Homo sapiens: one gene and its partners. The protein of the gene in region 4 purifies or fractionates together with the protein of the main gene of each other region. This does not show direct contact. Each region holds a gene or a part of one and is shown on either strand. Other genes may lie near its edges.

The links.
Region 1: the proteins of LIPG (region 4) and SUMF1 purify together in Homo sapiens (affinity purification with mass spectrometry; one large-scale study listed by BioGRID and IntAct). This does not show direct contact.
Region 2: the proteins of LIPG (region 4) and MAN2B2 purify together in Homo sapiens (affinity purification with mass spectrometry; one large-scale study listed by BioGRID and IntAct). This does not show direct contact.
Region 3: the proteins of LIPG (region 4) and DNAJC13 purify together in Homo sapiens (affinity purification with mass spectrometry; 2 studies listed by BioGRID and IntAct, with this or other methods). This does not show direct contact.
Region 5: the proteins of LIPG (region 4) and MELTF purify together in Homo sapiens (affinity purification with mass spectrometry; one large-scale study listed by BioGRID and IntAct). This does not show direct contact.
Region 6: the proteins of LIPG (region 4) and CLSTN1 purify together in Homo sapiens (affinity purification with mass spectrometry; one large-scale study listed by BioGRID and IntAct). This does not show direct contact.
Region 7: the proteins of LIPG (region 4) and LOXL2 purify together in Homo sapiens (affinity purification with mass spectrometry; one large-scale study listed by BioGRID and IntAct). This does not show direct contact.

What each region holds. Positions count from the first base shown.
Region 1 is NC_000003.12:4,457,270-4,460,769, forward strand, and holds part of SUMF1 (formylglycine-generating enzyme isoform 1 precursor), read right to left. Parts: intron 1-3,500.
Region 2 is NC_000004.12:6,578,189-6,581,688, reverse strand, and holds part of MAN2B2 (epididymis-specific alpha-mannosidase isoform 1 precursor), read right to left. Parts: intron 3,297-3,500; coding exon 3,191-3,296; intron 1-3,190.
Region 3 is NC_000003.12:132,424,002-132,427,501, reverse strand, and holds part of DNAJC13 (dnaJ homolog subfamily C member 13), read right to left. Parts: intron 1-3,500.
Region 4 is NC_000018.10:49,572,057-49,575,556, forward strand, and holds part of LIPG (endothelial lipase isoform 1 precursor), read left to right. Parts: intron 1-3,200; coding exon of another isoform or gene 3,201-3,277; exon of another isoform or gene 3,278-3,306; intron 3,307-3,312; coding exon 3,313-3,500. UniProt on the Homo sapiens protein: Exerts both phospholipase and triglyceride lipase activities. More active as a phospholipase than a triglyceride lipase.
Region 5 is NC_000003.12:197,003,529-197,005,817, forward strand, and holds part of MELTF (melanotransferrin isoform 1 preproprotein), read right to left. Parts: intron 1,217-2,289; exon of another isoform or gene 966-1,216; intron 832-965; exon of another isoform or gene 653-831; coding exon of another isoform or gene 572-652; coding exon 373-571; exon of another isoform or gene 74-372; intron 1-73. UniProt on the Homo sapiens protein: Involved in iron cellular uptake. Seems to be internalized and then recycled back to the cell membrane. Binds a single atom of iron per subunit. Could also bind zinc.
Region 6 is NC_000001.11:9,747,466-9,750,965, forward strand, and holds part of CLSTN1 (calsyntenin-1 isoform 1 precursor), read right to left. Parts: intron 2,449-3,500; coding exon 2,299-2,448; intron 2,182-2,298; coding exon 1,996-2,181; intron 1-1,995. UniProt on the Homo sapiens protein: Postsynaptic adhesion molecule that binds to presynaptic neurexins to mediate both excitatory and inhibitory synapse formation.
Region 7 is NC_000008.11:23,397,621-23,401,120, forward strand, and holds part of LOXL2 (lysyl oxidase homolog 2 precursor), read right to left. Parts: intron 1-3,500. UniProt on the Homo sapiens protein: Mediates the post-translational oxidative deamination of lysine residues on target proteins leading to the formation of deaminated lysine (allysine).

The DNA of each region.
Region 1 (3,500 bases), on a different chromosome or scaffold from region 4:
TCTGAAAAAGATATTAAGAAATTAATCCCAGGCCAGGATTCAATGTAATTTCTATCAAATGTAATTCCTATCAAATGTAATTCCTATCAAAATTCTAATGTCATTTTTCAAGGAAATAGAAAAAAAAATCCTAAAATTTGTACAGCACAACAAAAGACCCCAAAGAGCGAAAGCAATTTTGAGCAAAAAGAACAAAGGTGGAGTACCACACTATCTGACTTCAAAATATACTACAAACCTAATCAAATGGCATGGTACTGGCATAAAAGCTAACACAAAAACCAATGGAACAGGATAGAGAGTCCAGAAATAAACTCATGCATTTACCATCATCTGATTTTCAACAAAGGCACCAAGAACACACAATGGAGAAAGGACAATCTTTCAATAAACGGTATTAGGAAAACTGAATATCCACATGTAGAAGAATGAAATTAGACCCTTATCTCACAGCATATACAAAAATCAACTCAAACTGTATTAAAGACTTAAATGTACAGTCTGAAACTGTAAAACTACTAGAAGAAAACATTGGGAAAAGAAGCTCCATGACACAGGCCTGGCAAAGATTTCTTGGACTTGACCCCAAAAGCACAGGCAACAAAAGCAAAAATAAACAAATAGGATTGTATCAAACCAAAAGGCTTCTGTATGGCAAAGGAAACAACAGAGTGAAGAGATATCCCAGAATGAGTGAAAATCTTTGCAAACCATGCATCTTATATGGAGTTAATATTCAAAATATATAAGGAATTCAAATCAATAGCAAGAAAACAAAGAACTCAATTTAAAAATGGGCAAAGGACCCGAATAGACATTGCTCAAAAGACATACAAATGGCCAACAGATATAAGAAAAAATGCTCTTCACAACTAATTACCAGGAAAATGCAAATTAAAACCACAATGGGCTATCTCCTCACACCTGTTAGAATAGCTATCATCAAAAAGATGAAAGATAACAAGTGTTGGAGAAGATGTAGAGAAAAAGGAACTCTACTGCAGTTGGTGAGAATGTAAATTAATACAGTGATTATGGAAAACAATATGGAGGTTCCTCAGAAATCTGCAAACAGAATTACCATATGATCCAGCTATCCCACTTCTGGGTATATGGCCAAAGGAAATAAAACCAGTATGCTGAAAAAATATCTACACTCCCAAATTCATGGCAGCATTATTCACAATAGCTAAGATACAGAAGCAACCTAGATGTCCCTTATCATATAAATGGATAAAGAAAATGTTTATATATACATATATATATAAATGTCAGAATACTTTTTAGCCTTAAAAAGAAAACTCGGCCAGGTGCGGAGGCTCACGCCTGTAATCCCAGCACTTTGGGAGGCCGAGGCAAGGGGATCATGAGGTCAGGAGATCAAGACCATCCTGGCTAACACGGTGAAATCCCGTCTCCACTAAAAATACAAAAACTTAGCCAGGCGTTGGTGGCGGGCGCCTGTAGTCCCAGCTACTCCGGAGGCTGAGGCAGGAGAATGGCGTGAACCTGGGAGGCGGAGCTTGCAGCGAGCCGAGATGGAGCCACTGCACTCCAGCCTGGGCAACAGAGCTAGATTCCGTCTCAAGAGAAAAAAAAAGAAGAAAACTCTGTCATTTATGACAGCATGGATGAACCTAGTGGACAGTATGCTATGTGAAATGAGCCAAGCACAAAATGACAAATGCCTTGATGATCTCACTCATATGTGAAATCTAAAAAAGTTGAACTAATTGAAGTAGAATGGTGGTTATCAGAGGCTGGGGGAGAGGGGAAGATGGGGAAAGGAAAGATGTTGATCAGACGGTACAAAATTTCAGTTAGATAGAAGAAATTAGCTTTAGTGATGTATTGCACAGAGTGGTGACTATAATAAGTAATGCATTATATATTTCGCAATTATTAAAAAATAGATTTTAAATGTTTCCACCACACAAAAAATATAAGTATGTGAGCTGATGGATTTGTTAATTAGCTTGATTTACTCATTCCACAATGTAAACATATATCAAAACATCACGTTGTACCCCACAAATTATTATAAAATTATTTGTCAATTAAAAATAAAATTTTAAAAAACAAGGGCTCAAATTAGAAAGGGGAAAAAAAAGAAGTCAAGGAGAGATGGACTAGTTGGAAAAAAAGAGAGTCACTTAGCAATACGGGCAGAAGCATTAGAAAAATAACATCAGAAGAAACAGAAATTAGGAATCCACAGTCATTGATTCTACTTTCCATTTCTACTGGCTTTCCTTGCTGGTGGCTGCTTTGATTCTATGCGTGTACTTCCCAATAAAAATGGTGCTGTTTTCATTTATGATAAATTAGTAATAAATGTGTTTTTATTTGTCTAATGTATTACTACTATCCCAAGAAATCAACCTTGACTACTCACATCCCCTACTCCCAATATTACACAGGCCACCTAGTCTCACTAGATTTCCTAAATATGTATCTCTCTAATCTCTCCCTCTTTTCTACCCCCAGATAACTGCAGAACCCTTGTAATTGGTGTTCCTGTCTTCAGTCTCCTTTCACATCCCCACCTGCTTCCAAGTCATCTATCTTCCATTCAATAATTCATTCAACAAATATTTAAGCCCCTACTAATCCTTCTGAAAATGTTAGTCTACTGTACCCAATGCAATTTTCCAACTGAAAAGGGCTGGAAACAATCTAAATGTCCATCAATAGCAGGCTCATTTTAAGTAAATTGTGGGCCTTCAATAAAATGGAAAATTAAGCAGCCATAGGAAAGAAAAAAGAAGAGGGGGATAAAAAAGGATGCTTTTGATATATTGATATGGAAAGATCTCACCATGATGAGCTACAAGAACAAAGCAAGGTGCACAAATGCTAAGTATGGTATGCTGTCATTAGCGTGAAAGTAGGTTGAGGGATACAGGTACACTATTTTTGTATTTACTTATATTTGCAGAACATAGCTCTGAGGAAATATATAAGAAATGCATGCAGTGGTTGTCTGAGGGGAAAGTTACTGGGTAAATGAGAAATTGTTCACTATATACTCTTCTATATGTTTTTAAATTTTTAAACCACGTAAATATACTACCTGTTTTAAAAAATAAAGTGTCAATCTGACCATACTACTTTCCTACTTAAAACTGTCAGGAATTCCTATCGCCTTTCAGAATAACATATATAAACATCAGAGCTCATCTCTCACACTCTCTCTTGCCCTGTCTTTCACCCGCATTTCCATAAACCACTTTGTCTCTTGGTAAATATTGTCATGGTTCAAGGATCAGCTCCTCCAGGAGGCCTTTCCTGCCTGCATATCCCTCTAGCTCATGTGCCCTCACACACACAGTGTGTGTGTGTGTGTGTGTGTGTGAGAGTGTGTGTGTGTATATATATACATATATATATATATATATTTTTTAAGAGATGGAGTCCCACTCTGTCACCCCACGCTGGAGTGCAGAGGCGTGATCACAGCTCACAGCACCCTTGATCGTCTGGTCTCAAGCAACTCTCCC
Region 2 (3,500 bases), on a different chromosome or scaffold from region 4:
TGCTCCTGTCTTCCTTTGCTGTCCAGGGCCTGCCTCGAGGCAGGGGCTCCACCAAGGTGAGATGGAGGATAAAGGGCCCGGAAGCAGTGAGGGGTGATCCAGCCCCTCTTACCCCAACATATCTGAGAAAACCAGCCCAATGTGGACATAATTCACAGCCAGAATGCCTGGGACATCTGAGATGGGTGGTCTGATACACACACTCTGCCCCCGCCCTAGGGACTACAAGTTAAGGAAAGAGCCCAGGCCAGGCACACATGGGCTTGAGCGCCAGTTCTGTTACCTACTGCATATATATAAATCCCGCATCTCTCAGTACCTCAGTTTCCTCATCTGTCAAATGGGGCTGTGAACAGTACCACTTGCTACCAGGCTGTTCTGAGGCAACTAAGAGATAGCAGATGGGAAAGGGCTTGGCTCAGCCGCCAGTGAGAGGGGCTCAGCCACAAGTAACCTTCCTGACTCGGCCGGGCTAGGGTTGGATCTGGGTCCCATCACTTAGCTGGTGGTGGGCACATTTGGATAGCATTTGAGCCTCAAACTTCTCTACAAATAAGCATTTGTAAGATTACCCATCTACCAGATTGCCCTGAGGACTGAAAAAAAAATACGTGTACATCTTGTACCTAGAACAAGGTGGTTATCATGAAAGAAACCCACATGTCTGTACCCTGAGGGCCCCATGAGCTTGGACAGGTTTGGAAATGGAGCCTCACAACAGCCGCTGTCTCTTGTGTCTCTGGAGGCTCTTCCTGCCCCAGAGCGACACAGCCTCAGCTTCCCTGAGGCTTCCAGTTGCCAGGTCAGACCTGCAGGGTCAGCGCTGGGGTATCAGCACTTAGGCACGGTGGGCTGAGGCCAGAGGCGAGGTACCCCAGTGGTGGGTACCCTCAGGGCAGGGCAGTTCAGCGCCCACCCCTTGCCCAGCCTTGCCCAGTAAGCAGTGGTCTGGGCCAGACCCTATGCTGGGTGCTGAGATGAGTCAGATGGGGGTCCCTGCCAGGGGCATCTTGAGGTTCAGCGGTTAAGTGGGGAGGTGACACAGAACTGCAGAGACTCAGAGATTTCCTGCGGGAGGGGCTTCTCAGCTGCATCTTGAGGAGGAGGGTGGAGAATGAGGGGGAGCACTGCGTGAAATGGCACAGGTGAGAAACAGCCCCAGAGCCTCCTCGCTGGCACGGGGCAGGAGGCAGGTGGGGGACACGCCTACAGTGTCACACATTCCCTGGCAGTGGGCTTGTGAAGGGGTGTGGGGGAAGTCTGTTGGGATAGATCCCTTGCCCACACTTCACATGGGGGAGTGAAAGAGCAGGGGCTCTGGAGTCAGGGAGCCACAGCAGGCGGCTGAGGGCAAGGTGCTCCCTCTGAGCCTTGCTGTCCTCCCCTGTTACCTCTGGGCCTGTGGGGATGCAGGGGGACAAGCAGGGGCTGAGCTCCTGGCCACAGGAGGAGCTCTGTCTGTAGGGCTGTGTCCATCACGCCTCCTTCTCATGGAAGGGCAAGTCTAGGGTTTGAGCAAAGTCCAGATGTAAGGCAGTAAGAAACTGAGACAGGGGAACACTCCAGATTACAGATGAGAAAAGGGAGAGTGCCAAAAACATCCTTTGACAACATTGCTCTCTGCCTGGATGTTTTACAAATGGGGAAATCAGGGCCCATGCTGTAGTGGAGTGACTGTGGACTCGGAGCTTCAGTCCCTAGGCCTGGACTCAAGTCCTGGCCATCTACCCTGGAGAGAGTTACTGCATTTCTTTGGATCTCAGTTTCTACATCTGCAAAATGAAACTGGGCATCACCATGCCTCACCATCAGCCCGCCATTAGGATTGGCTGGGGTGTCACTGTGAAAGGCATTTGGTAAATGGTGAGTAGAGTGCCCCACGGCACTGTGGGTGATGGTGCTGAGGACAGTGGACACAATGGTGAGGGAGATGGTCATGGTGGTGGTGATGATGATTGTGGAGGGGATGGTAGTAATGGATGTGGTGATGGTGGTGGCGACAGTGATGGGTGGTGATCATGGTGATAGTGTTTAGGGGGTGGTGGTGATGGTAGTGGTAGTAATGGTCATTGTAGTGGTGAAGATGATGGTGGTAGTGGTGATGGTGGTGATGGTAGTGGTAGTAATGGTAGTGGTAGTGGTGGTCATAGCAGTGGTGAAGGGTGGTGGTGATGGTAGTTATGATGGTGGTGGTGATGGTAGTGGTAGTGATGGTCATTGTGGTGGTGAAGGGTGGTGGTGATGGTGAAGGGTGGTGGTGATGGTGGTGGTGATGGTGATGGTGGTGGTGGTGATGGTGAAGGGTAGTGGTGGTGGTGGTGATGGTGATGGTGGTGGTGATGGTGATGGTGGTGGTGGTGGTGGTGGTGATGGTGGTGGTGGTGGTGATGGTGGTGGTGATGGTGATGGTGGTGGTGATGGTGGTGGTGGTGATGGTGGTGAAGGGTGGTGGTGGTGATGGTGGTGGTGGTGGTGGTGATGGTGATGGTGGTGGTGCTGGTGATGGTGATGGTGGTGGTGGTGGTGGTGATGGTGATGGTGGTGGTGATGGTGGTGGTGGTGGTAGTGGTGATGGTGATGGTGGTGGTGCTGGTGATGGTGATGGTGGTGGTGGTGGTGATGGTGATGGTGGTGGTGATGGTGGTGATGGTGGTAGTGGTGATGGTGATGGTGGTGGTGGTGGTGATGGTAGTGGTAGTGATGGTCATCGTGGTGGTGGTGGTGATGGTAGTAGTCATGGTCATTATGGTGCTGAAGGTGGTAATTGTGATGGAAGGCAGCAAACACTTACTGAGCATTTACTAGGGAACCCACATCCTACTAAAGTGCTTTATTTGAATTATCCCATTTAATACTCACAACAACCCTTTGAGGTAGGTATTACCATCAAACTCATTTTATCTATGAGGAAACTGAAGTTACATTCCTTTCCAGGGTCACAGAGGAGGGAATTGGCAGAGCCAGGATATATTGAGACCATCTGACTCTAGCATCCATGCTCTTAACCCCTACATTCAACTTCCTTGGTGAGGCATGAATATGGCACTAGCAAATCACTGCTTTCACTGGTTAAGGTCCCCGACCCCACTAAGAGGGGCAGACAGAGCTCAGAACCTGGGGGTTCTGATACCATGTCCCAGCCCCACTGGAGGTCCTGAGGGACCCTGGGTGCAGGGTAGGGTGGCCAAACCTGTGAGCTGCAGGATCTGGTCATCAAGGTGCGTCACAGCCTCGTCATGCATGACCTGGCCTCCGATGACAAATTCCAGGCGTCCTTCCTCCAGGAGCTGGCGGACCTTGACATGGGCAGGCAGAGAGAAAAAAGCCAGTTACGGCTCCTGAGCATGGCTGGGTCTGTGGGGAACACACCTACAGCGCCACACACGCCCTGCATAAAACTCCCCACCCTTGCTTACTCTATAAAAGCAGGGCACTGTCTGTCCTGGTCCACACTGTGTTCCCACCACCTAGAAATCATGCAGCCCTCAGGTGGTATTTGA
Region 3 (3,500 bases), on a different chromosome or scaffold from region 4:
GTCATTATTATTTTATTGTTACAATTTATGTTTCCCATAAAACGTTTTTAAAAAGAAAAAAATATTGCCGGGTGCGATGGCTCACGCCTGTAGTCCCAGCACTTTGGGAGGCCAATGCAGGCAGATCGCTTGAGTCCAGGAGTTCAAGACCAGCCCAGGCAACATGGCAAAACCCTGTCTCTACTAAAAATACAAAAAATTAGCTGGGTGTCATGGCACAGGCCTATAGTCCCAGCTACTTGGGGGGCTGAGGTCAGAGGACCACTTGAGCCTGGGAGGCTGAGGCTGCAGTGAGCGAGCCCTCATCTTGCCACTGCACTCGAGCCTGGGAGACAGAGTCAGACCCTGTCTCAAAAAAAAAAAAAAAATATATATATATATACACACACACACACGTGCACACACACACACACACACACACACACATATGTATATATAAACACCAAGATAATCAGGATAGATGAAATTTTTAAAAATCATCTTGTCAACTATAACCCAACACTTAAGCTTGTCTTTTATTTCAACTTTATTCCTACAAAATACTATTACAAGTCAATCTTATTTACTACATTTTTAATATTCCCCACTTAGGTATTTGAAATTTCAGTTGTTAGAACTGTTTCCTTACATGTATCCAACCTAATATTTTTAAATTTATGTTTGATGGCTACAAATTAACTATGGCTTGAGAAACTTTCAAGAAAAAAAAAACTTCACAAAATAAATTTAATCTGCAGTCAATATTTCCTCTGTACATTAATAAGCTCTAAAAGTGATTCAAAAAAATCATCACTTATAGGCAAAAACTCTTAAGCAACCATTGATTTCCACTATTTATGATGAAAAAAATCTGTAAAATTTCTAGTATCAGAAGCTCAAGTATCAAGCAGGTAATATCAGTAACAGTCAAATATAAGCACATGCTATCAACAACCACAAACTGTCCAACTAAAAAATGTAAACAGTTAAATGGGATCTTGAATGAGATCTTGGTAGCAGCTGTATCACTAGCATTTGCCATTCTGCCAGTTGTTTAGAGGCTATTCGAAATAGCAGGAATTTATCTGCTCAAACTAACGTCACTTAAATTTCATCTCCTTCATTCCTGCAATTGTGTTCCATATTTCAAATTCTCAAAGACCCATGATTCTTTCTGATGAGGAAAAATCAAATTTACATGCCTTTTGTAATTAAATTGCATTGAAAGCATCTCCAATTTTTGCGAGTCAGCTTCACTTGTTTTCATGCTATATCCTAAATTACACCACCAAAGAAACTTCTGTTTGTTCTTTTTATAGAACTGTCCTATGGGTTAAAAAGTCAAATTCAGGGCAACACAGGCATTTTGGCTAGATTCACCTCTCTCAATGAATACTACTGCATCATGCTTTCGAACAACACAATATTCTTGCATTCTCTAATTTATTACTGGCAGTAATACTGGCAAACCATTTAAGATCATTTATGGTTAAAATGAGAATGATCTTTTAGAAGACACATAATTTTGACAGAAAACCACAGGATTTGGGAGTCCAGTGAGAAGAAGCCTACATCAAGTTGACACTAAGAACAAAAGCAAGATGAAGGGACTCAACACCACAGACACTCAAGCCAATTACGGTCAAGCTATAAGCAAAAAAATTTACACACACAGCAAAATTAAGTATATACACATGGCTTGTGTTAAGCAAAAACACAAGCAGAACACTCATTTAACTAGGGATGAATGAATACACTTAGAAAAAAATACACTAGTGAAAGAAGGATTGGCATTAATCAGGCTAGTCACCTGTTTAAAGCACGTATTTAGCATCATCAACTGGAAGTAATTTTTACACAAATATGACAACTTGCAGAGAACAGGTAAGCTACTGATTTTCCCATTTTGAGTCTGTAAAATGCAAGAACGGAACTTACTTTCATTAGCTCTGCCCTCAATAACTAAAAATGTGAATTTGTTTTGAAATGCATAAAAAATAAGATGGATTGATGGAAAGATGGACAGATCTGTGATAAAGCAAGTACAGTAAAATGTTAATGTAAAAACCTTTAGGTGGGCATGTGGGTATCTAATGTAAAGTTCTTTCAACCTGGCTGTAGGTGAAAATGTTTACAATATGTTGGGTGAAAATTGTGGAGTTTGCCTTTTCTGATCAAACTCTCCTACAACAGAAACAATGCTACATTCCAAAACCACACTTAAAATGTAGCAGACATTCACATCATAGGAACTAATTTATGAACGTAATACTTCCTACAGCTATATCTTACCAAAAAGGGAGGGGTAGTAAGGAGAACCATGGAAAGACTAACCCTTTGAAAAAATAACTAATAAGAGTAATAGATAGAATATCTTATATTGGCTTCTTGAGGATCTAGGTTTGTTTGTAACTGGATTCAAAATCTGAGTAAATCATAGCACTAGATTAGTTTGGTTTCAAACAAATGGTAAAAAATATGAATGGCTAACAGAATGTTCATTTTTACCCAGATTAAATAGCTACAACTAAACTGTTTAGATAGAATGTGCTGTGTATGGGGGAAACTGCCATATGAACTTTAACCCTATTTTTAAATTTTAGCTTCATTTTAATATATGACTCAAGTACAGGTAAAAGCATTTTCTTCTAAATGAACAACAAATCAGTATGTGTAATATGTATGATACCAACAGGAATCTTAAAACAAACCATAAATACATCACAAAGATTTTAGTACCTACCATCTTAGCCTTCCTTAACTTACTGAAGAACCCGATACCTCCAGAGATAGATGTCGTTGAAGAATAAAAAAAGCCAGCGGTAATATCAAATTTCATCTGATAATCATATCTTCAAATAATTGCCCAGATATTTTAAAGTGAAGTGATTGTACTGTCACATCATAATCAACTTTTAACTAGTTTCACTACCATAGGGTAGCTGAAATAATATGAGATCTCCACCATTGTTTTTAAAAACTTGATTCCTTTCTATTACAAACTGAGTATATATTAATGAAATACAGGGCAAGAAAAATTCAAAAGCAACCCCTAAATCTGAAGAAACACTTAATGGGAGGAGGGGACAAGCATACTTACCATAGCAGTTACTTTTTTTGACCTCTTCTATTCAACAGTATAAATCAAGTATTGAAAAGAGACCTGTCTCTTCTATTTCTATCACATGTATGCTCATTTCATCTGAGGGGAATAATTTGTATTTCTGACAAAACAGAAGTTTATCTGTTGTTAAAAAAATTCAAATTTTCTGTGAAAGATGTATTACTATGACCCTTCCCTTTCCAAAGCTTAAAAATGCCTTAAAATACTCACCTGAAAGCTTTCTTTCCAGAAACATGTTCACTTAAGCAATGCTTTGAAATCATTGCTATTGATCATTTACATATTTTTAGTTTATACACATTATTGTAACTTTATAGACCTAATTTCTATTTCATTTTATCTTTGAAGCATAACCTGGCTTATGCAAGAACAAACTATACTATTTCTGTAAGGTCTT
Region 4 (3,500 bases):
CGCCTGTAACCCCAGCACTTTGGGAGGCCGAGGTGGGTGGATCACCTGAGGTCAGGAGTTCAAGACCAGCCTGGCCAACATGATGAAACCCCATGTCTACTAAAAGTACAAAAATTAGCCGGGCATGGTGGTGGGTGCCTGTAATCCCAGCTACTCAGGAGGCTGAAGCAGGAGAATCTCTTGAACCCAGGATGCGGAGGTTGCAGTGGGCTGAGATTGCGCCACTGCACTCCAGGCTGGGTGACAAGAGTGAGACTCTGTCTCAAAAATAAAAAATAAAAAATAAAAAACAAACAAACAAAAAACACCTCATATATGACAGCTACTCTATGCTATCTCTGAACCACATAGCAACCCTGAACATTCTACGGAGGGGGAAACTAGGACTCAGTGATTAAGTAAAGGGCCCAATATCCTGGGCCCTATAAGTAGCAGAGCTGGGACTCAAACCCATGCTGTCAGATTCCAGATCCCATGCACCTCACTGCTGTGCCATGCTGCCTCTCTTCTGTGGACAGAGATAAAGTAGCCAGGCATGGTAGTGCATGCCTGTAATCCTAGCTACTCGGGATGCTGAGGTGGGAGAATCACCTGAGCCCAGGAGGTGGAGGTTGCAGAGAGCCGAGACTGGGCCACTGCACTCCAGCCTGGGCAACAGAGTGAGACCCTGTCTTAAAAAAAAAAAAAAAAAAAAAAGTAGCCGTTGAACTACAGCAGGCCCTGCCCTGCCGGGCCAGAATGCACAGCCCTGGAAGTTTTACATGTGTGCATGTGTGTGTGCTCCATTTGCTGGACAAAGCAACTTTGGAGGAGTCTATGACTGAATGGAAGAAGCGGCGGAGGTTCTCTATCTCCTCTTTATTTAAGGAGGCAGTTCTCCCTGTCATTCATCCCTAGTTAAAAAAGTTAAATGTGCCACTGTACCCCTGAATCTGTGGGCCACAGATATGTGTCAGGGACAGTCAGAGCAGGGCAGGCAGGCTCTGGCTGGGTAGGTGAAGGCCCAGCCTTGCCTGCCAGCCAGCCTGTGAAACCCCATCAGCTGCCTGCATTCCTCCAGCACAGCCTGGTTTCCATGGCACTGACCGTCTGGTGGGGACCTTTGTTCACACCAAGTAAAGAGCCTCTCTCTTGTATTGATTGCAAAGCAGAATGTTGCTCTCTTTCTCTTTCCTCCAGGGGACATGGTGAGAGGCAGGGAGAGGCCGCTGTGTCAGTACTGCGGTCCTTGCGGCCTCTGAAATGGGTTGTCGTGGGCTGTTCTGGGAGCACACTGCTTTTGTGCCATCTTTCTTTTGGGTCCTGGGCTAGGGATAAACTCTCAAGCAGCCTGGGCTCCCTTTCTGTCTTGGTTGCACATAAAGTTATCTAAATTTGGCTGGGTGCAGTGGCTTATGCCTGTAATCCCAGCTACTCAGGAGGCTGAGGCAGGAGAATCGCTTGAACCCAGGAGGCGGAGGCTGCAGTGAGCCGAGATCGTGCCACTGCACTCCAGCCTGGGTGACAGAGCAAGATTCCAACTCAAAAAAAAAAAAAGAAAAAAAAGTTATCTAAATTTTTGGAAACTATTTAGCGTTTCAGCCTCTACCAGTTCTCATATGAGTAATGAGTTCTGCAAGTTGACCGTCCACTCTAGACGGTAGCTCTGCCTCTTGTTTATCCTGAAACTACCATCTCAAGTCTCCTGATAGGCTCCCTGGTTCTAATGTGCTGTGGTCTGGTGAACACGGTCGTTAACCATGTCCTCCTTTCAGGACTCTTGTTGGTCACATCTCCTCCCAGCCTTGGTGTTTCGAGGCCAGGTTTTCTCAGCCTAGGCAATATTGACATTTGGGGCCAGGTAAGGTTTTGGTGTGGGGTGTGTGTGTGTTGGGATTGACTTGTGCACTGTAGAATGTTTAGCTGTATTCCTGGCCTGGCCCTGCTAGATGCTAGCAACTCTCTCCATCAGAATGGGGGCAATAAAAAGGTCTCCAGGAATTTCCAGATGTCCCCTGGGGGGCAAAGCCACTTGTAGTGGTGAACCACTGTTCCAGCGGCCCTTCCTTCCTGGCACATTTCATCCCTTAACTTTCTCCAGGTCCTTCCTGTGTGTCTGTGGGGCAAAGAGCTGTTCTGGTTGGGATAAATCTGGTTCCCATAATCACTTGGGCTTGGTAATAGTAGCTAATACTGACAGGCACTCAGTCTCTTAAGATCTCACGTGGACTTTGAATTAAGGTATAAATTCAGGTTCCATTTTATAAATGATAATGAAACACAGGGAAGTTTTTCAATATTTGGCCCACAGAATACCTACTTTTAGGATCATCCGGGGAATAAATATCTATTTCTATGTGCCATAATTCATATCTACCCACTAGGAGTTCAGGCACTTGGGAATCTGCATTTTATACTTTGCAAGTTCTCTTTTGGAATGGTTTTACATTAATGCAGTTTTCAAATCAAAAGATGGTGAAAGTCTCTCTTACTGCTCTGCTACCTGTCCGTTTCCCTTACCCACTCTCTCCCCCAACGCACACGCATACAGGTAACTAGTTGCTTGTGTGTCCTTCCAGATTTTTTTGTAGCTGTATGGTGGAATTTAAATTTAACAAGCTCCCAATTTCAAATATGAGAACCAGTGCTCTCAACAGTGCTGCTTGCCTGCTCAACACAAAATGTTTGGAGGCGGAAAGGTTTTCTCACGGTGGCTGCAAAATAGAGGAATTCTGGAGGCCTGATGTATGGATTCTCAGTGTATTGGGTGTCCTCTTCTCTCTCACCATTCCACCCCTGGGCCTGATTAAAGGAAGAAGAATAAATTCAGATACAAATAGCTCCGTTTGGGGAGACTGGATTCTCCTTCCAGAAGGATGTAGGCAGCTTAGTTATTCTGTAAAAATTCTGCTACAATTAAGGACATGAAAGATGCTCAGTGGCAGAATGAATGGGACAAATGGCTTAGTTTCAGGCAGTCTGAGTTCTTTCTAGAACTGCTTCAGTTTTAACAGGAGCAGTTCCTTGGAGCTGTGTGGCAGCGAAACTTGTGGCTAGTTGACGGGGTTTGGCTGAGGTGACGGGATACATGAAGGCTTCAGAAGAAAGTATAAATTCCATAACAGTAGGATTTAATTTCTGCAATGATGTCTTGGGGTCAACTGCATATGGAAATGGGTTTCTTATTTTCTTCCATGCTTTCCATGTCTTGATTCTCCCAGCTGGTCTCAGAAGTCATCTTCATTCTGCACACTCAGACTTAACTTGTAATCAGGACTCACTGACCAGGTGCACCTGACACCACAGCTGTTTTGGGGCCTCCTTCTGCTGCAGGTTTGGATCCTGCCGGGCCCATGTTTGAAGGGGCCGACATCCACAAGAGGCTCTCTCCGGACGATGCAGATTTTGTGGATGTCCTCCACACCTACACGCGTTCCTTCGGCTTGAGCATTGGTATTCAGATGCCTGTGGGCCACATTGACATCTACCCCAATGGGGGTGACTTCCAGCCAGGCTGTGGA
Region 5 (2,289 bases), on a different chromosome or scaffold from region 4:
GTGGGGGCATCTTTCGGGACCGAACTCGCCGCAGCCTCCCTCTTTGTGCTCCTTTCCCCTGCTGCCCTTCCAGATGCGCTCTTTCCAGAAAGGCAGCACACGCATGTCTCTGCCGTGGCCCCAGATCCTCCCCGCGCCGCCGTTTTGAGCGTTCACACTCATTACCCAGGTCCGTCTGGGAGACCCGCCGGGCTCCCGCCCTCCCGGCCCGCAGCCTCCTGGCCAAAATCCTCCCGGGACACCCCACCTGGACTGCTGCGAACGGGCCTCCACCCGCCTCCCCGGACCCGCAGCGCCCCCCGCTCCCTCAGGGTTCTGGGGTGAAGGGGTCTGAATAGCACCAGGGGAGGCGGCAGGGCGGGCCTGTCCTACCTGCGCCCGAGCACTGCTGAGACGACATCCCTTCCAGCGCCGCCACGTAGTCCAGCCCCAGCCAGCCGCGGTAGGTGGTTTTCTCTCCGACAGGCACCGCCCGGACGGTGGCATCCTTGAAAAGCAGGTCTTGGCCATGATAGTTGGAGGAGTCGAACATTTTGAACCCGTTCTTATTGTGGTCGTCTCCAAACAGGTCCTGGAAGCACCGCAGGCAGACGACCTGCTCCTCACTGGGCTCAGGCAGGGTCACCCGCCCAGTGCCGCTAGCTGCAAATTGCTTTACATACAGTGACCCAAAGAGCAAGTCATTTCAGGGCCCCACCACTCTGATTGGAAGTCATAAGCTTGACAACTGATTGGCCTCTGTCACCCAAGCGGGTGTGGGGACACTAGGCCCGCAGGTGCCACTGGAAGAGGCGTTCAGAAGCACTGCGGTGCTCCAGCTCCTGGATGCAGGTCTGAGGCCTGAGATGTCCAGGAAGAAAGACCCAGAAATGAGGGATGGTGTGGGTGGGATTCCTGAGCGTTCTGCTAGGCCTGCTGAGCACTTCTTGGCCTTTTCCATAAGGCTTTCTCACTCTGTCTTACAGATATCTCCCCACAAACCTAAACAATTTCGAGAGGGACTTGTGTTCTGCAACCAGTCACAGAATATCAGGTGAGCTGGGCGTGTCTTCACTGACCCACCCGCCCAGGGATGCTGCACTCCTCTCCACCCTGCTCAGAATCACTAGAATGACCGTTCTGTGGCTACAGCCCTAAAAGAGCTACTAAAAAGACCAGAAGTAGTATGAGAACTTATGAATACGAATATAAATAAAGGACATCTGGAGAACATGCATGAATGTCTATGTAAAGTGTTAAGTACTGATCAAGGAGGAACGAAGGAGTCAGGTGGCTCTCAGTCTTTTTGGAGGGACTCGCAGATCCTCCTGAAGATCTGATGAAAGCTGTCAGCCTTCTCCCCAGAAAAATGCACATCCACCCAGGATTCTTCTCCCACATTACTTCAGAGGACTTAGCAACCCCCTAGGGAAGCCCAGGGACCCAGAGTAAAGCACTCCTGGGATAGAGGGGTTCTGTGGGGAAGATGACAGGAAGGAACATGCGTCAGTTCACAATGTCAAAGTTTAGGAACAGGCCTGGCGAGCCAGCCAGCTCTGCAGTTCTGTGGTGCTGGTGGGTGTGGAGAAGGCAATTTCAGCATAAGTCGGGGGAGGGGGAGTGGTTAGAAACCAGTGGCTCCATTGTGAGACAACCTGGGTTTAAATTCTAGGTATATTTTGAAAGCACAACCAATGGGATCTGCTGATAGATTGGCTGTAGAGCACGAGAGGAAGACCGGAGTCAAAAATGACTCCCGAGGAAATGGAAAAGCTAAAGTTGCTCTTAATTGAAGTGGGGAAGACTGAAGGAGGGACGGGGGTCCAACTTTGGACTTGATCCATTTGAGATGACTGTTAGAAACACAAGTCAAAATGTCAAGTATGTAGTTAAATATGCAAGTTTGGGACTGATGTCTGAAGATGTAAATTTAGAAGCCATCTGTATATAGATGGTATTTGATGACATGGGATTGGATGAGATCAAGGGTAAGCTGTAGACAGGGAAGAGGGCTGAGAACTGAATCCTAGGGCTAACAGGTCAGGGAGATGGGGAGGAAATCAGCAGAGAAGACTGAGGAGTGGCCAGAGAGTGAGAGGACAGCCAGGCAGGGCTGAGGACCTGGGCATCTGCAGGGGAAGGTGTTTCCAGGAGGAGGGAGAGCTGTGGCCAGTGCCACTGAGAGGTCAAGTAAAATGAAGACTGAGAAATGGCCACTGGGTTTAGCAACATGGGTCACTGTGACCTTGACAAGAACAGCTTCAGGGCCCTGGTGGGAGCCTGTCTGGGGTAGTCTCCATCCTTAAGAGG
Region 6 (3,500 bases), on a different chromosome or scaffold from region 4:
TACTTTGGTTTATTTACCACATGATAATTTTCTTCTTATTTATTGTTTTTTTTCTAAGACAAAGTCTAGCTTTGTCACCTAGGCTGGAGAGTAGTGGCACACTCTTGGCTCACTGCAGCCTCCTGGGTTCAAGCAATTCTCCTGCCTCAGCCTCCCAAGTAGCTGGGAGTATAGGCACCTCGCACCACGCCTGGCTAATTTTTTATTTTTAGTAGAGCGGGGGTTTCATCATGTTGATCAGGCTGGTCTTAGACCCCTGACCTCAAGTGATCTGGATAATTTTCAATTATAAACCAGTGGCCGGGCGCGGTGGCTCATGCCTGCAATCAGCACTTTGGGAGGCCGAGGTGGGCGGATCACGAGGTCAGGAGATCGAGACCATCCTGGCTAACACGGTGAAACCCCGTTTCTACTAAAAATACAAAAAAATTAGCCGGGCATGGTGGCAGGTGCCTGTAGTCCCAGCTACTCGGGAGGCTGAGGCGGGAGAATGGTGTGAACCCAGGAGGCGGAGCTTGCAGTGAGCCGAGATGGCGCCACTGCACTCCAGCCTGGGTGACAGAGTGAGACTCTGTCTAAAAAAAAAAAAAAGAAAACCAGTAACCTAAATCTCATGGTTGTTATCAGGCTAGTGAAAAGACTCATCAGTTTAAGAAAATGCTCCCTGAAAAGCTGTTTCACAAAAGCTTTTTGAAACACAAAAGACCCTTCCAATTTATGAAGACGCTGCTTCATTTAGTGGGATTTTATCACCAGTCAACTAAATGTTCTTCCCTCAACATCTTCCATGACAGCCATCCATACCTCACCTCTTCTTCATTTAGATAAACCAGAAAAATATCCGCAGCTGACAGTAAAGAGAGACCTAGCCTTCTGGTGGGTTTCCCAGTAATTCTGTCTCTCAATTTCTCCACACAATATTGTGATATAGAAAATCTATTGAGATTCTAAGTTAGATGTGGCTATCTTTAGTTCTGATTTTCTACTTCATGTTTGTCAAAAGCTATTGTATTACCTATATTTTTCCTTCAGTTCTTTTTGAGACAGGTTCTCACTCTGTCATCCAGGCTGGAATGCAGCGGCGTGATCTTGGCTCACTGCAACGTCCACCTCCTGGGCTCAAGCGATCCTCCTCCCTCAGCCCCCCAAGTAGTTGGGACTACAGGCGTGCACCGCCATGCCCGGCTAGTTTTTGTTTTTTTTGTAGAGACAGGGTTTTCTCCATGTTGGTCAGGCTGGTCTCGAACTCCTGACCTCAGGTGATCTGCCCACCTCGGCCTCCCAAAGTGGTAAGATTATAGGCATGAGCCCCCATGCCCTGGCCTTTGTCTTCAATTCGTAAGTAAACATCTCATTTCATGTAAAACTCACTCCATGTACTCCTATAGAAGCCCTTTTTGGATGATTCTCAGAGTATGCTGGAGAAATACTTCCTTCAAATCAGTGGTTCTTTTTTTAAAACAGGGTCTCACTCTATTGCCCAGGGTGGAGTGCAATGGTGCCATCACGGCTCACTGCAGCCTCAACCTCCCGGGCTCAGGTGATCCTCCCGCTCAGCCTCCCAAGTAACTGGAACTACAGGTCCATGCCACCATCCCCAGTTAATTTTTCAATTTTTTGTAGAGATGGGGTATCGCTGTGTTGCCCAGGCTGGTCTCAAACTCCTGGGCTCAAGTGATCTTCCCACCTCGGCCTCCTAAAGTGCTGGAATTACAGGTATAAGCCACCACATCTGGCCACCAGTGGTTCTTAAAATGCACATATACACAACATGTTGAATAGACGTTTAGGAGTTGATGTCCACCCCCTGCCCCACCCCCGAAGCCCATCCAGTATGAAAACTAGCCAGCAAGGCAGCAAAGTTCACTTCAGAAATGCAGATTCTCTGTCACAGTTTATAATTATGAACACAACACACACAAGTATTTCCAGTTGTAAAGGTCCCTCCCACCTTCACCAAAGCCAGCCGGATGCAAGAACGCCTGGTCTCCTTACCACAGAGCCGGTGGAGGGACTTCTCTGAGTAGGTGTCTCGGTCGCAGCCTTTCCCTATGTGGCTGGTTTCTAGCTCCACTGTGGCCTGTACTGAGGCGACTGGCTCGTCACATGTCTCCAGGTGGATATTTGGAAAGACGGCCAACGCGCCGGTGCCCGGCTCATACTCAATCCTGTTGTTCCATCCTGTGTTGGTCCACAAGTCAGCAGGGGAAGAGAGAAGGAAAACACACACTCTAGGTTGCTGCCGCATACATCAGTTTTAAGAGCAGATGTGAGCGCAGGGGAGAGAATGAAGCTCACCTTGCCACCCAGGGGTGCAGGTGGGCTTAATGCTGATCTTCACCAAAACATCTTCTGTGGCTCTTTTCTTCCCACAGTCATAGGCAGTGACGGTCAGCTTATATTGATGTTCTTTCCCGTAGTTTAATTTCTCTGTGTTTTTTATATAACCTTACAGAGGGCAAAAACAACAGTGAGAGCCAAAACCCATGCTGGTTTTACTTTTGTTGTCCTAGGCGGAAAGACAAAATGCATAGGCTTTAAGCCCTGTAAATACTCAGCCAGAAATAAACATATGCTTGGGATGCTTAACCCTCAACCTGTCCTCCCTGAGCCCTAACACGCACTAAATCCATCCTGAAGAGTTTCAACAGAAGAGACGGAGCTACACAGCTCAGTCTCCACTTACTCTCACAGTGTTACATTGGGCTTTACATTAAGATTTAACTGTTTACATACATTCAGAGGATTAAAAAATAATAATAATTCAAGTACCTCAAATATTAAATATAAGATCGCTGATCAAACATTTACTATATTAAAAGAAAGAGAGATTTCCTACCCCCACCTGCTTAGAACAGAAGCCTGCTTTTTGAACGTGGTGAGTATAGATCTCTGGAAAGTGTTTGCAATGTCCATAATTCCATCAAAGATTCTAGACCGTGCATTGATTAACAATGGAAACACTGTATTATCTTTTTTTTTCTTTTTGGAACAGGGTCTCGTTCTCTTGCCCAGGCTGGAGTGCAGTGGCCTGATCTCGGCTCACTGCAACCTCTGCCTCCTGGGTTCAAGCGATTCTCCCACTTCAGCCTCCCAAATAGCTGGGACTACAGGTGTGTGCCTGCAGTCCCAGCTACTAGCGAGGCTGTGGCGGGAGGATCCCGTGAGCCCAGGAGTTCGAGGTTACAGTGAGCAGTGACTGCACCACTACATTCCAGCCTGGGCGACAGAGCAAGACCTTCCCTCAAACAAAAAAAAAAAAAAAAAAGATGTCACAGGAGATTCTAACTTAATGGAGAACATGGCCAGGCGCGGTGGCTCACACATGTAATCCCAGCACTTTGGGAGGCCAAGGTGGGCGGATCACCTGAGGTCAGGAGTTCAAGACCAGTCTGGCCAACATGGTGAAACCCTATCTCTACTAAAAATACAAACAACAACAACAAAAAATTAGCTGGGCGTGGTGGTGGGCACCTGTAATCCCAGCTACTCGAGAGGCT
Region 7 (3,500 bases), on a different chromosome or scaffold from region 4:
AGAAAACATTAGCTGGGTATGGTGGCGGGCGCCTGTGGTCCCAGCTACTCAGGAGGCTGAGGCAGGAGAATGGCGTGAACTTGGGAGGCGGAGCTTGCAGTGAGCCGAGATCGCGCCACTGCACTCCCAGCCTGGGCAACAGAGCAAGACTCTGTCTCAAAAAAAAAAAAAAAAAAGAAAGAAATATGCTTTTCCGTGGGCATAGTGGTGCATGCCTGTAATCCCAGCTACTCGGGAGGCTGAGGCAGGAGAATCTCTTGAACCTGGAAGGTGGAGGTTGCCGTGAGCTGAGATTGCACCACTGCACTCCAGCCTGGGTGACAGAGTAAGACTCTGTCTCAAAAAAAAAAAAAAAAAAAAAAAAAGAAATGTGCTTTACTCAATTTTATATTTGTAATTGTTTTAGAAAGATATTTAGAAAAGTATCTTTCTCACTACATCTTCGAGTCATGCAGGCACTCTGAAGAGCTATACTGTGTTTACCTTGGTACCCCAGTGGTATATCAGGACAAGCCTGGGGGCAAAAGAAGTTCATGGATCCAAGTTCCAGAAAGATATTATAAAGAAACTGCAAATTAAGTTGTTCACAAGTCATCACCATAAGTTATCTTGTCGTAAGTGTATGTTTTATAGGCAAGTGGCATCATTTTTGCAGAAGATACCCTCAGCACTTTGTTGGCAACACATCAAGGAGGATATGTCTGTTGCCACAGGACATCCAGAGGGCCAGCTGTGTCTGCTTGTCTGACGTGGATCGTAGGAATGAAAAAACTAAAAAGAAAACATCACTCTTTGCTTAGAAGACTATAATTAAATATAATACTTAAGGTATCCCAAGTGAAGGGATCAAAAGCCCTGGACAAGAAGAACCTACTAACTGTGTTCCTAACCACAACCTCAGCATCTGCTGAGTTAGTTCTTGTTCTCATCTGCCACACACACTACTTGCCTGGTAATAGTATTTCTGCCACAGAAAGTGCAAAAGATTTGTTAAAACTCTGGACAGAAGTCTGAACTACACAGTCCCCAGCATCCTTTATCATCATCAACCAAGTGGCTATTCTTTCTTTGTTTTTGAGACAGGGTCTCACTCTGTCACCCAGGCTGGAATGCACTATAGCCTTGACCTCCTGGGCTCAAGCAATCTTCCTGCCTCAGCCTCCTGAGTAGCTGGGACTATACCATGCCTGGCTAATTTTTTTTTTTTGGTAGAGACTGGGTCTCCCTATGTTGCCAGCTATTCTGAAAAGGCGCCTAGAGACGTCCCTGACGCTGGTCACGGTAGAAGGGCTGCCAATACGCTTGGCCAAGAGGTGCTCCCTGCTGAGCAAGCACTGCATTGGACAGCAGTGGGTGCATGTGTGGAATTACTCAGGTGAGAGATTTCTGATGTCTTGCTTCAACTTACACAGGACTGAAGACTTAAGAGACTCAGCTGTGTGTTGCTCTGGTTGCATCTCTGTGAATGTCTGGTTGGCCCTTCCTTTTCTAGCCTGCAACTGCTATTCCCGCCTTGTCTGTGGGCCTAGAGCAGAGTGGCCTCGGGCCACTTCATCTGAGGCCTCATGGACCACCCAGGGTGTGACTGCCATGCAGACCGACCACAAAAGCCTTTCTCCAGGGGGAAATGGACGATGACAGTAACAAGCTGCTCTTTTAAAGCCAGGCAGCCCCTGGGAATGGGAAATCATATCTCCTGCTGTGGTTTGAATAGGTGTCCCTCCAAAAAATTCATGTTGAAATTTAATCCCCAATGTGGCAGTTTTGAGAGGTGGGGCCTTTAAGAAGTGGTTGAATCATGAGTGCTCTGCCCTCATAAACTGATGAATCCATTCACCAATTAATAGATGAATCGGTTATCATGGGAAGGGAATTGGTGGCTTTACAAGAGGAAAAGAGACTTGAGCTAGCATGTTATCATGCTCAGCCCCCTCACGATGGTCCTGCATCACCTTGGGATACTGCCAAGTCCCCACCAGCAAGAAGGCCCTCACCAGGTACAGCTCCTGGACTTTGGACTTCTCAGTCTCCATAACTGTAAGAACTAAATTCCTTTTGTTTAATAAACTACCGAGTTTCAGGTATTCTGTTATAAGCAACAGAAAATGGACTAAAACACCTCCTAAGGCTCCCCAAACTTTAAAATGAAGGAAGCAGTCATGCTTGTGCAACTGCAGCTGCTGGTGTGGAATCACCTAGAAATTCTTCCTCCATGGAGACAGCCTATTAGCTAAGGAAAAAGAATCTATGGCCGTCAGAAGGCAGGGTGATTTAAGGTTAATGTCTTGCCACTTCGGAGTTCCTCCCGTTGGATGGAATCGGGTTGACCAGTTTCTCTGCCTCTAACTGGCTATTTTATGGAAGGTCTGTTCATTCCCTGTTTCAAAGCAACAAGCGTAACAGCAGAACATCTAGGAGTCCTGTGCCAAGAGATTCCTTTTTCCCACATGATCTGCCAAGAAAGGAGAATTCCAACTTATGAGTCTCATTAACAAGGTGGAGAAATTTCTTCTTCGCTCCATTTCAAAAGCAAATAAACTTAAGTAATGAAAATGCTAAAAGCAGAAGGCTCTGGTGTTGTATTAGTCTGTTCTCATGCTGCTAATAAAGACATACCCGAGACTGGGTACTTTGTAAAGGGAGGAGGTTTAATGGACTCACAATGCCACATGGCTGGGGAGGCCTCACAATCATGGCAGAAGACAAAGGAAGAGCAAAGGAACATCTTACATGGTGGCAGGCAAGAGAGCATGTACAGGGGACTCCCATTTATAAAACCATATCTCACGAGATTTACTTCTCAGGGGAAAGATCTACCCCCATGATTCAATTACCTTTCATCGGGTCTTTCCTACAACACATGGGAATTATGACAGCTACAATTCACAATGAGATTTGGGTGGGGACACAGCCAAGCCATATCAGGTGTTGCATATCTTCATTGGTCAAATGCAGAATAAAGTCATGCATAAACTAAGGGCTTCAATGGGAAGCCTATATACCCCTACTTCTCTGTCATAGGATTTGAGGGCTTCAGCATGAAGGTACCAGCTGTCAGAGTACTCAGGTGATGCTCAGAGAGGGGAGATTGTCCTCTACTAGATTTCTTTCTGGGGCCTTTGTTTCTTCCAGGAATCCCAGCAACAGTCATTTCACTCATCCTATTTTTACACCTTGGAGTCAAATAATGAGGAAGTACACTGCTCTCTAGTTCAGAGAGGGCAGCTCTGAGCCCTTACAGTTTTGCAATGAGCTAGGAAACAAACCCTGGCTTCCTGATTTTGCAGTTCATTTATCTCAAGCACCAAATGTCCAATTACTAATATTTACACAGGGATTTCTGACAGCAGGTGTATAGGAAGTGATAAGCCCAGGATGAAGCCTGAGCCAAGAAGAACTCTTCAGAGAGCAGCTGAGAGTCCACGAGTAACATGGAGAACCAGAACCACCGAAGCCCAGCCATGAGGAGGCTGGGTTAGACCCTGGCTCCCTGGGTCACC